Linked DNA regions of Homo sapiens. The protein of the gene in region 1 purifies or fractionates together with the protein of each later gene. This does not show direct contact. Each region holds a gene or a part of one and is shown on either strand. Other genes may lie near its edges.

Region 1 (3,651 bases):
TGCCCCAAACGCAAGGGCCTTACTGAGCGCCCCTAGAAAGAAACTGAATTTGCTTCACACACACTGGAGTCTCCCTCAAGGGGGAGAGGGAGGCAGAGACTCACCCGAGTAGAGAAGGAGGCCTGGACAGTGAAAGTCAGAGACCCGTAAGAGACGAGAGAAAGAGAGGAGGAAAGGGTGAGATGGAGGCAGAGGAGGGAGGAAGGAGCAGAGATGGGGAAAGGAAGCTGGGACAGGAGGACTGGGGGTGATGCCCCGGTGGCAGAGGAGCCACGAGGAGGCTGGAGATATCACAGAGGCAGGGATGGAGAAGCCGGGAGGCACAAGAGAAGGCACACCAGGGTGGAGGCCCAGAGGTCTGGGGGCTTCTGGAGAGGGAGGGCTGAGGGATTGGGGCAGGACTGAGGGGCAGCCAGGGCTCCTGCCATGATGGCAGTTACTCCACGAGGTCCCTCAACCCAGGCCAGCCCACCCCGCAAATTAACCCTCCTGCTCACCATCGGCTGAGTCGGGCCGGAAGGTGATCTTGATCTCGAACTTCCTGTAGGCATCCTTGATGGTGGGCAGCGGTAGGAAGGAGTAGGGGGTCTGCGTGAAGTAGGGCACCACCCGCTCTGCCAGCAGAGAGCACAGCTGAAGACCCTGCCAGTCAGGGAGTGGGCAGGGCACTGCCAATTCTTAGGGGTGGTGTCTTACCTGGCACCTGCAGGTGGGCAAAGGCTTTGACCTTGCCCTGGCGGTTAGTGGCGGTGCAGACGTAGGTACCTGCGTCCTGGGGTCGGACTGAGGGCAGCATCAGCATGTTGTTCTCCAGGCGGCTGTCAGGTGGCAGGCTGCCATCCAGCTGCAAATGCACTAGCACTGAGGGCCCTGGCCTTGGCCCACGGCTCCAGGGGCCCACCTCCCATCTGTGCCTCAGGCCCACCTTCCAACATTGAGCGTTTGCTCTTGGCCAAGCCTGTGCCACATCCTGGGGACACTGAGACGCTTCAGATCTGTTCCCAGCCCCCAAGTCATGCCCGCTGGTTCCCTCTCCAGCACTTACCTTGCTCCAGCTGATGTCAGGAGTGGGGTAGCCTGAGGCTATGCAGGGGAAGACAGCTGCAGAACCAGCAGGCACACGGACTTCTTGGGGCATTGAGATCTGGGGCAAGGCTGAGAGGCATGGAAGAGACATAGGCCATCAACATGACAGTCACAGATATGTGCCCAGCCTGCACCCTGATTCATTTCATCTTCACACCACCCCTTGAAGGAAGCCACTACATTCCATTTCACAGATGAGGAAATTATGGCTCAGAGGGGAAAAGCGGCTGTTTGCTCCTGGTCGGGCAGAGTCAGGGTTCAGGGCCAGATCCATTTCACTCCACAGCCTGAGACCTCTTCAACATGCCTGGGCAAAAAATTGTGCAGCCCTTTGGGGACCTGAGAAGTGCACACTAGGGGCAGTATAGGTAAGGAAGTTTGGAGGCAAGTCACAGGGCTTGGGGTAAAAAGGAATTGCCTTTAAAGAACACACAGTGTTTGTGTCTGCCCTGCATCTGTTGTCCTTGTTTTACTCTCTATTAGGTCTGTTTGTTGACTGGGTTATGTCTCTGCCCTCAGACTATGCTGCAGGTCTCTCCCAGCAGAGCAGGCACTCCCTGCAGATGAGGACAAGGTTTCTTTTTTCTTCTTGATGCTCTATGGCCTAGCTCTCTCCCTGTACATTCCAGGCTGCCCTGGGGGAATCTCACTTTTATCCCCTGCTGCTGCCACCTGTTATGAAACCTGCCCCTTAAACACACACAATGGAAAATGTCCCAAGTGAACAGAAAGGAAGAGCAGAGCGGGCAGGCAGAAGATGGCAGCAGGAGAAGCCCCTGCCCCACTCACTGTCCCCCAACAAAAGTCCCCACTGGCCTTCACCTTGCACAAGCAGCAGGACGTGGGATTGTGTGGTGCCAGCTGCGTTGGTGGCAGTGCAGCGATACTGTCCCGCATCAGCCAGCTCTACGTGGGCGATCCTGACGACACCTCCGCTCTGCACAATGCCTGGCCGCAGGTGCCCTCCAACTTTGCTCCATGTCACCTGAGGCTTGGGGTCACCCAGTGCCAGGCATTCGAACTCCACGGCGTGGCCAACCACCACGGTCTGCACAGAGGTCCGGATGTTGATGAGCACCGAGGGCAGGGCTGGGGAGGAGGGAGGCAGAGGTCCAGTGAGATCAGTCACTGCAGGCCTGGCCCGAGGGAGGCCATAGACTGCCCAAGGAAAGGTGAGCACTGAAGCTCCAGCATTCATTCACTCCTCATTCACTTTTTCATGCATTCACTCACAAACACACTCACTTGTCAGGTCTTATGCATTTACTCACTCACGTGTCCACTTCTTTTTTTTTTTTAGACAAAGGGTCTTGGTTGTATTCACAGGTGTGATCACGGCTCACCACAGCCTAGAATTCATGCGCTCAAGCAATGCTCCCAGCTTAGCCTCCTGAGTAGGTGGGACTACAGGTGCGTTCCACCATGCCCGGTTCACACTGATTCAATCTTCATCGGTTCATCTGAGCACTCACACACTCCATCCATATCCTTCTTCCCTCCCTTGAAATATGTATCAAGCCCCTTTTACTCTATGCTAGACACAAGCAAGGCAAAATGGAATAATTCTCTTTATTCTGACACATTTAGGGGGATTCCTAGGGAACAGGGTCTGGGCCTTGTGCCTCTCTGCCTTTCTCATCTCTGTTCCCTGCTCTTAGCAGAGGCCTGAAGCCACCCTCCTACCTTGGATAACCAGCTGGGCACTGGCCTGGGCCTTCCCCCAAGGTCCATGGGCCTGGCATATATACGTCCCTTGGCAGCTCTGGTCCAAGTTCTGGATTCTATAAAGAAAAAATAATAAGACATCAGGGAGTTGAAAACAACTGATAGAATGCTTTGCAATTGGGCTGGGCGTGGTGGCTCACGCCTGTAATCCCAGCACTTTGGGAGGCTGAGGCAGGCGCATCACTTGAGATCAGGAGCTTGAGACCAGCCTGGCCAACATGGTGAAACCCTGTTTCTACTAAACATACAAAAATTAGCCAGGCGTGGTGGCACACGCCTGTAATCCCAGATACTTGGGAGACTGAGGCACGAGAAACGCTTGAACCCGGGAGGCGGAGGTTGCAGTAAGCCGAGATTGCGCCACTGCACTCCAGCGTGGGTGACAGAGTAAGATTCCATCTCAAAAAAAAAAAAAAAAAAAAGAATGCTTTGCAATTGTGTGGGCATTAAAAACTGATGTAGAACAGCACGCAGTGTTGCATTCTAGTTTCCCAATAACCACTAGAGGTAGGCAGGCAGGTTGGGGGGCACCACACTCATTTTAGACAAAGACCTTATGGTCTAGGGCTCAAGATTACACAGTTATCAAGTAGCAGAGCTGAGATCTGGGGTCATTTGTGTATTTCTGGCCCCAGGGCCTGTTCTCTTTCCTCCGCTAATAATAAATATGAATGGGCCACTGTTTACTGAAGGCCTTCCAAGCACCAAGCACTGTGCAAGTGCTTCAGACAATCTCCTTTCAGTCTTTTTTCTTTTTGAGATGGAGTTTTGCTCTTGTCACCCAGGTTGGAGTGCAATGGTGCGATCTTGGCTCACTGCAACTTCCGCCTCCTGGGTTCA
Region 2 (3,651 bases), on another chromosome or scaffold:
CTACAGAGACTACAAATTGCTGGTTAACTAATTCAGTGATAGGTACTTGAAAATACCTACTCCCACTCCTAATACCATTATCTAGTTTCATGAACCAACTATTCAAGAGGCCCAAACTTAACCCATGCTATTACTTCACATTCTTCTTTTATAAAGAGAAAAATCTCTTTTCAAATAGGAAAGATACTCACAACTGGGCACTTCCACTGAAGCTTTTATTCTCAATCTTTCAAAACGAAAGCTTTCTATCACTGTCTTTCTAGATCTATCAAAACACTTAGCAGAAAAAACCTGCCGGGCACAGTGGCTCAAATCTGTAATCCCAGCACTTTGGGAGGCTGAAGCGGGCAGATTGCTTGAGCCCCAGGAGTTTGAAACCAGCCTGGGCAACATGGTGAAACCCCATCTCTACAAAAAAATACAAAAATTAGCTGGGCATGGTGGCACATGCCTGTATCTCCAGGTACTTGAGAGGCTGAGGCAGGGGGATCATTTGAGCCCAGGAGGCAGATTGCAGTGAGCCGAGATTGTGCTGCTGCACTCCAGCCTGGGACAGAGCAAGACTGTCTCAGAAAACAAAAACAAAACAAAGACCCGATTAGTATGTACTACATTCTTTTTCCAATAAAGCCATTAAAAAACTGAAGAAATTTATATTATTCTCCTTTACATCTCAGGTTATGTCTCCGTGGCAACCATAGTGAATAGTACCTTCCACACCTAAAGAGGGGCTAACCTCTAATCTAGCCATGTTTAGCCTATGTGTTGCTGTGCTCAAGTTAGGCTTTATTTTCCTACCTTAATAAAAAAGCCGGGAGCTGGGCGCAGTGGCTCACGTCTGTAATCCCAGCACTTTGGGAGGCTGAGACGGGCAGATCATGAGGCCAGAAGATCGAGACCATCCTGGCTAATACGGTGAAACCCCATCTCTACTAAAAATACAAAATATTAGCCAGGCATGGTGGCGGGCACCTGTAGTCCCAACTACTTGGTAGGCTGAGGCAGGAGAATGGCGTGAACCCGGGAGGCAGAGCTTGCAGTGAGCCGAGATTGTGCCACTGCACTCCAGCCTGGGGGACAGAGTGAGACTCCATCCAAAAAAAAAAAAAAAAAAGCCAGGGAGGCCAGGCGCGGTGGCTCACGCCTGTAATCCCAGCACTTTGGGAGGCTGAGGCAGGTGGATCATGAGGTGAGGAGTTCAAGACCAACCTGACCAACATGGTGAAACCCCATCTCTTCTAAAAATACAAAAATTAGCCGGGCGTGGTGGTGTGCGCCTGTAATCCCGGCTACTCAGGAGGCTGAGGCAGGAGAATCTCTTGAAACTAGGAGGTGGAGGTTGCAGTGAGCTGAGATTGCGCCACTGCACTCTAGCCTAGGCGACAGAGTGAGACTCCGTCTCAAAACAAACGAACAAAAAAAAAGCCGGCGGCACAGGCTCACACCTATAATCCCAGCACTGTGTGAGGCCAAGGCAGTTGGACCACCTGAAGTCAGGAGTTCAAGACCAGCCATGCCAACATGGTGAAACCCCATCTCTACTAAAAATACAAAACAAAATCAGCCAGGTGTGGTGGCGCACGCCTGTAATCCCAGCTACTCCAGAGGCTGAGGCTCGAGAATCGCTTGAACCCAGGAGATGGAGGTTGCAATGAGTTGAGATCATGCCACTGCACTCCAGCCTGAGTAAGACTTTGTCTCAAGAAAAAAAAAAAAAAAAAGCTCTATATTAGTAATGAATACAACTGCAGTTTTTAATGGCCATAAACTTACAGGATTCTTAAATGCATAAATCACAGAAATATGCAGTAACTGCAGCTACATACACAGTCCTAAATAGAATATCAGGTTTAAGACTCAAAGTACAAAGACCATTAAAAACATTTATTTGCCAAATCCAGTGAGAAACTAGGAGCAACTTAACAGCTGTCTAAATAACCACAAAATATTAAAAAATACTTCTGGCTCAATGTAAATGACATCTGAAGAGAGATGCTGCCTCCTCCAACAGACGTCTCATTTGTTCGCCTAGAACCATTTATATTTCATTGAAGCCAGCTGGTGTCTCCGTTTGCAGGCATGCATCAATGTCTGGTGAACAATCTATGTTCCTGTAAACCCTTCCCCATTCACAAGCTGCAGTTTCCATTTTTAATGGCAAGTTTCCAGCAAGTACAATGAGTTCTTACAAAGGAACTTAACTCTTCACAGAATTCAATTCCTAAGGCAGATTAATGGTACCAAGCCATAAACAATGTGAATTAATGTGCCTAACAAACTCACAAATACATTAACATTCACAGAAGGGTATCTTCAGACCATTCATTCACTACATAATGAAAACAATGTGCTGGATTTGATTGACGGTCTCTTATAATGTTGCAATATTTTGGTTTTATTAAAATTCTTTCTTGGGAATGTCATGACAATCTTTTGGCTAAATGGTAGTATTATGAGATGTTTCAAAAACCAATAGTAAAGCATACTTTGGTTTTCAACTAACTTACCAGGGTAAGTATTGATGCAGCTACTAGAGGCATTCATTTCACCAACGATATTCAATGCTTCTGCTCCCCCTCCCCTTACTTCCACTGATCACTTTTCCTTTTCCATACCCAGGGGTATTATAAACCTCACTGCTGACACCCCACATGAGGGTAAGCAAACTTTTTCTGTAAACACCAGAGAGCAAATATGGAGTTTTCGGGGCAATATACTGTGTGTGACAACTATTAAACTCTGCCATCGTCACCTGCAATGAACAATACTTAAAAAAAAAAAAAAAAGAATGAGCACAGCTGTGTTCCAATAAAATTTTATTTATGGACACTGAAATTTGAATTTCACATAATTCTCACGTGTCACAAAATAATTCTTTTGATTCTTTTCCAACCATTTAAAAAATGTAAAGAACATTCTTAGCTCTCAGGCTACACAAAAATATGGCTATACTTTGTCAACCATCCCTAGACCCTGAACAGCATTTCTGAATTAGTAACACTTAGGTGTCCTAAAAAACAGGTTTGGGATAGCTGTGTGTTAAGGAGTCCCTAAAAAATTCATAATGCCAATTAGCATAATAAAGGCTCTAAGCCTTGCGGTTAAGAAAGCAAGCTTAACTTCCGTCAGCTCAGCTAGTCCTTCCTTTTTCCTAGTATTAAGTTGCAACAGTTTGAAAAATATTTAAATAAGAATAGTCAAGTCAAACTTCCTGGGATGACTAAAATGATAGCTAAGGTTTAAAACAGACATCCAAGTTCCTGAAACTAATAAAGCCACAACATGACTTCAGCTATGCCATCAGAAACTGAAAGTATCTAGAGGAGAACAATGATAAAATAAAGTGTATACATGCTCTGAAAAAAAGTCACTTTAGTACTCTAGTTCTACATTAATTTGTATTATATTTGAACTCACAGATGTGAAAGGAAAACAAAGAGTTCCCACAAGTTTGCCAATCTCAATTTGGTAAGCCACTGTCTACTTCCAAACCTAACTACTCATTTTAGTTAATGACAGATGGGTATTTACTCCCATAAAGTTTAAGAATAATCGGTGTTAAAATAGGAAGCTAAAAATCAGGTGCATGAGAAAATTATTTCCAAGTTTACTAACATGAAAACTGGGAAGCTCTTTGATACCTGCACAACA
Region 3 (3,651 bases), on another chromosome or scaffold:
TTTCTATTTTTAGTAGATACAGGGTTTCACCGTGTTAGCCAGGATGGTCTCGATCTCCTGACCTCGTGATCCACCCGCCTGGGCCTCCCAAAGTGCTGGGATTACAGGCGTGAGCCACTGTGCCTGGCCGGAAAAGCATATTTCTAAAGATGATTTCACCCACCCCAAGAATAGCATATCTAGGTAAAATCACATGATCCTAAGTATATACCCACATAGGCTTTTTGGGTTGCTTTTGTGTTTATTGTGGTAAAATATACGTAACATAAAACTCACCATCTTAACTATTTTCAAGTGTACAGTGCAGTGGCGTTAAGTGTGTTGACACTGCTGTGCTACCATCACCATCAGCCATCTCTGGTACTTTTGCATCTTCCAAAACAGAAACTCTGTACCCATTGAACACTAACTCCACTCTCCCCCTCCGACCAATCCCTGGCAGCCCCCATTCTACTTTCTGTCTCTGTGACTATGACTGAACTAGGTACTTCATATAAGTGGAATATATTATATTTGTCTTTTCGTGTCTGGCTCATTTTACTTAGCATGGCTTCCAGGTTTTTTCACGTTGTAACCTGTGTCAGAATTTCCTTCCTTGTTGAGCCTGAATAATATCCCACTGTATGGATAGACCACATTTGTTTATCTCCTCCTCCACTGGTGGACATGTGAGTTGTTTCCACCTTTTGGTGACTGGGAATAATGCTGCTGTGAACATTGGTGTACAAATGCCTGTTATGGATGAACTTTTACAAAGTGAACATGCCCTTGCTACTACATCAAGAATAGAACATTAGCAAGAATGCATGAATTTAAAGGCAAAGCAGGAGATTTCAAATACGTTTCATGCCCAAACATGGCTGCTTCAATTACACCTCAAGATCTTGGGACTGGATATTGATTTTCTCTACCATGAGGGGGTTTGGAAGAGATATTTGAAAGAACACAGTTAATAATCTGTGATTTGAAAGAGTCAGTTTATAATCACAGATTAGTTATGAGATTTAAGTAGCTCCTTTCCTTAAAACGTCTAGGGATGGGAGTACAACCTGTTGAGATTTGCAATTGTAGCTGTGTTAGGGTATCACCACTAGGATCATTCCAGGCTGCCCCTTGGCCATTGTAGGGTTCAAATCCACCTGGAGAACTCCTGCCTTTCTGGCAGCTTCTGCTGGAGCACAAGTCTAAGCCCATTCTTTGGCCGTATCCTGCCTGCCCTCCTCATTTCCTTCCTCCCTCCTTCCCTTCCCACCTGATCTCTCTCTCGTTTTTTTGTTTGTTTGTTTGTTTGTTTGTTTGTTTGTTTTTGAGACTGAGTTTTGCTCTTGTTGTCCAGGCTGTAATGCAATGGCACGATTTGGCTGACCGCAACCTCCACCTCCTGGGTTCAAGCGATTCTCTTGCCTCAGCCTCCCGAGTAGCTGGGATTACAGGCATGTGCCACCACACCCTGCTAATTTTGTATTTTTAGTAGAGACAGGGTTTCTCCATGTTGGTCAGGCTGCTCCCGAACTCCCGACCTCAGGATCCTGCCGCAGCCTCCCAAAGTGCTGGAATTACAGGTGTAAGCCACCGTGCCCAGACTTCTCTCTCTTCTTAAGTAGAACGATTTATCAGTGACTCTAAGAGTTTATGTGTGTATTTAGAAATAAGGCCAGGCACAGTGGCTCACACCTGTAATTCTAGTACTCTGGGAGGCCAAGGTTGGGGGATTGCCTGAGCTCGGGAGTTCGAGACCAGCCTGGGCAACAGGGTAAAACCCCATCTCTACTAAAATTACAAAAATTAGCCAGTCATGGTGGTGCACGCCTGTAATCCCAGCTACTCAGGAGGCTGAGGCGGAGGTTACGGTGAGCCAGGATTGTGCCACTGTGCTCCAGCCTGGGCGACAGAGTAAGACTCTGCCTCCAAAAATAATAAAATAATAATAATAAAGTCTTCAGTCAAGAGTAATATTTTGATGCCTGGCAACCACCCCCAGGCTGCCTGCATGACACTTTCAAGTGTCATCGAAGTAGATTCTTTTTTAAAAGACTTTATTGAGATATAATTTGCATATCATCCAATTCACCCATTAAAATGTACAAGTCAATGGATTTCAGTATATTCACAGATATGTGCAAATATCACCCCAGTCAACTTTAAAATGTTTTCATCAACACAAAGAGAAGTCCATATCCGTTAGCCACCACCGCCTATCCTCCCAGCCTTAAACAGCCACTAATCTAGTTTCTGTCTCTATATTGCCAATTTTGTATAATTTGTGTAAATAGAATCATATAATATGTGGTTTTTTTTTTTTTTTTTTGGTCTGGCTTTTTTCACTTCCCTTAATGGTTTTTTTGTTGTTGTTTCTTTGTTTTGTTTTGTTTTGAGACGGAATCTTGCTCTGTCACCAGGCTGGAGTGCAGTGGCGCCATCTCGGCTCACTGCAACCTCCGTCTCCCAGGTTCAAGCGATTCTCCTGCCTCATCCTCCCAAGTAGCTGGAACTACAGGCGTGCGCCACAATACCCAGCTAATTTTTGTATTTTTAGTAGAGACGGGGTTTCACCATGTTGGCCAGGATGGTCTCGATCTCTTGACCTCGTGATCCGCCCACCTTGGCCTCCCAAAGTGCTGGGATTACAGGCGGGAGCCACGGTGCTCCCCTAATGTTTTTAAGCCTCACCATGTGTCAGTATCTCGTTACTTTTTATGGCCGAATAATATTCTATTGTATGGGCATACCGTATTTTGTTAATCCATTTATAGTTGACAGACATTTGGGTTGTTTCCACCCTTTGAGTATTATGAATAATACTGCTATGAACATTCATGTAAAAGTTTTGTTTGAACACCTGTTTCAATGTGTTTCAATTTTGGGGGGGTATATACTTAGGAGGGGGGTTGCTGGGTCATATAGTAATTCTATGTTTAGCTTTTTGAGGAATCACCAAATTGTTTTTCACAGTGGCTGTAGTATTTTACATTTCCACTAGCAACGTATGAGGATTCTAATTTCTCCACATCTTTGGGGACACTTTTTATTTTCCCCTTAAGAAAATTCCAGCCACCTTTATGGGTATGAAGTGGTATCTCATGGTACTTTGTGTTTGCTTGATGACGAGTGATGTATCACACCTTTTTATGTGCTTGTAAGCCATTTGTATATCTTCTTTGGGGAAGTGTCTATTTAAGTTTTTGCCCATTTTTAATTGGGTTGGTTGTCTTTTTTTTTTTTTTTTTTTCTCTGAGACAGAGTCTCACTCTGTCACCTAGGCTATAGTGCAGTGGCACGATCTCGGCTCATTGCAACCTCCACCTCCCGAGTTCAAGCGATTCTCCTGCCTCAGCCTCCCGAGTAGCTGGGACTACAGGCACGCGCTACCGTATCTGACTAATTTTTGTATCTTTAGTAGAGACAAGGTTTCACCATGTTGGCCAGGCTGGTCTTGAACTCCTGACCTCAGGTGATCCGCCCACCTCGGCCTCCCAAAGTGCTAGGATTACAGGCATGAGCCACCGTGCCTAGCCTGGGTTTCTTGTCTTTTTATTGTTAAATTATAAACAATTTTTACATATTCTGAATTCTAGACCATTGCAGATATATGATTTACAAATATTTTCTCCCATTCTGTGGGTTATCTTTTCCCTTTCTTGACAGTGTCTG

Evidence for each region.
Region 2: the proteins of HSPG2 (region 1) and AKIRIN2 purify together in Homo sapiens (co-immunoprecipitation; one large-scale study listed by IntAct). This does not show direct contact.
Region 3: the proteins of HSPG2 (region 1) and LOXL2 purify together in Homo sapiens (co-immunoprecipitation; one study listed by IntAct). This does not show direct contact.

Annotation. Positions count from the first base shown.
Region 1 is NC_000001.11:21,832,771-21,836,421, forward strand, and holds part of HSPG2 (basement membrane-specific heparan sulfate proteoglycan core protein isoform b precursor), read right to left. Parts: intron 2,868-3,651; coding exon 2,770-2,867; intron 2,176-2,769; coding exon 1,909-2,175; intron 1,156-1,908; coding exon 1,046-1,155; intron 845-1,045; coding exon 697-844; intron 615-696; coding exon 498-614; intron 1-497. UniProt on the Homo sapiens protein: Integral component of basement membranes. Component of the glomerular basement membrane (GBM), responsible for the fixed negative electrostatic membrane charge, and which provides a barrier which is both size- and charge-selective.
Region 2 is NC_000006.12:87,695,604-87,699,254, forward strand, and holds part of AKIRIN2 (akirin-2), read right to left. Parts: intron 1-3,651. UniProt on the Homo sapiens protein: Molecular adapter that acts as a bridge between a variety of multiprotein complexes, and which is involved in embryonic development, immunity, myogenesis and brain development.
Region 3 is NC_000008.11:23,393,975-23,397,625, reverse strand, and holds part of LOXL2 (lysyl oxidase homolog 2 precursor), read left to right. Parts: intron 1-3,651. UniProt on the Homo sapiens protein: Mediates the post-translational oxidative deamination of lysine residues on target proteins leading to the formation of deaminated lysine (allysine).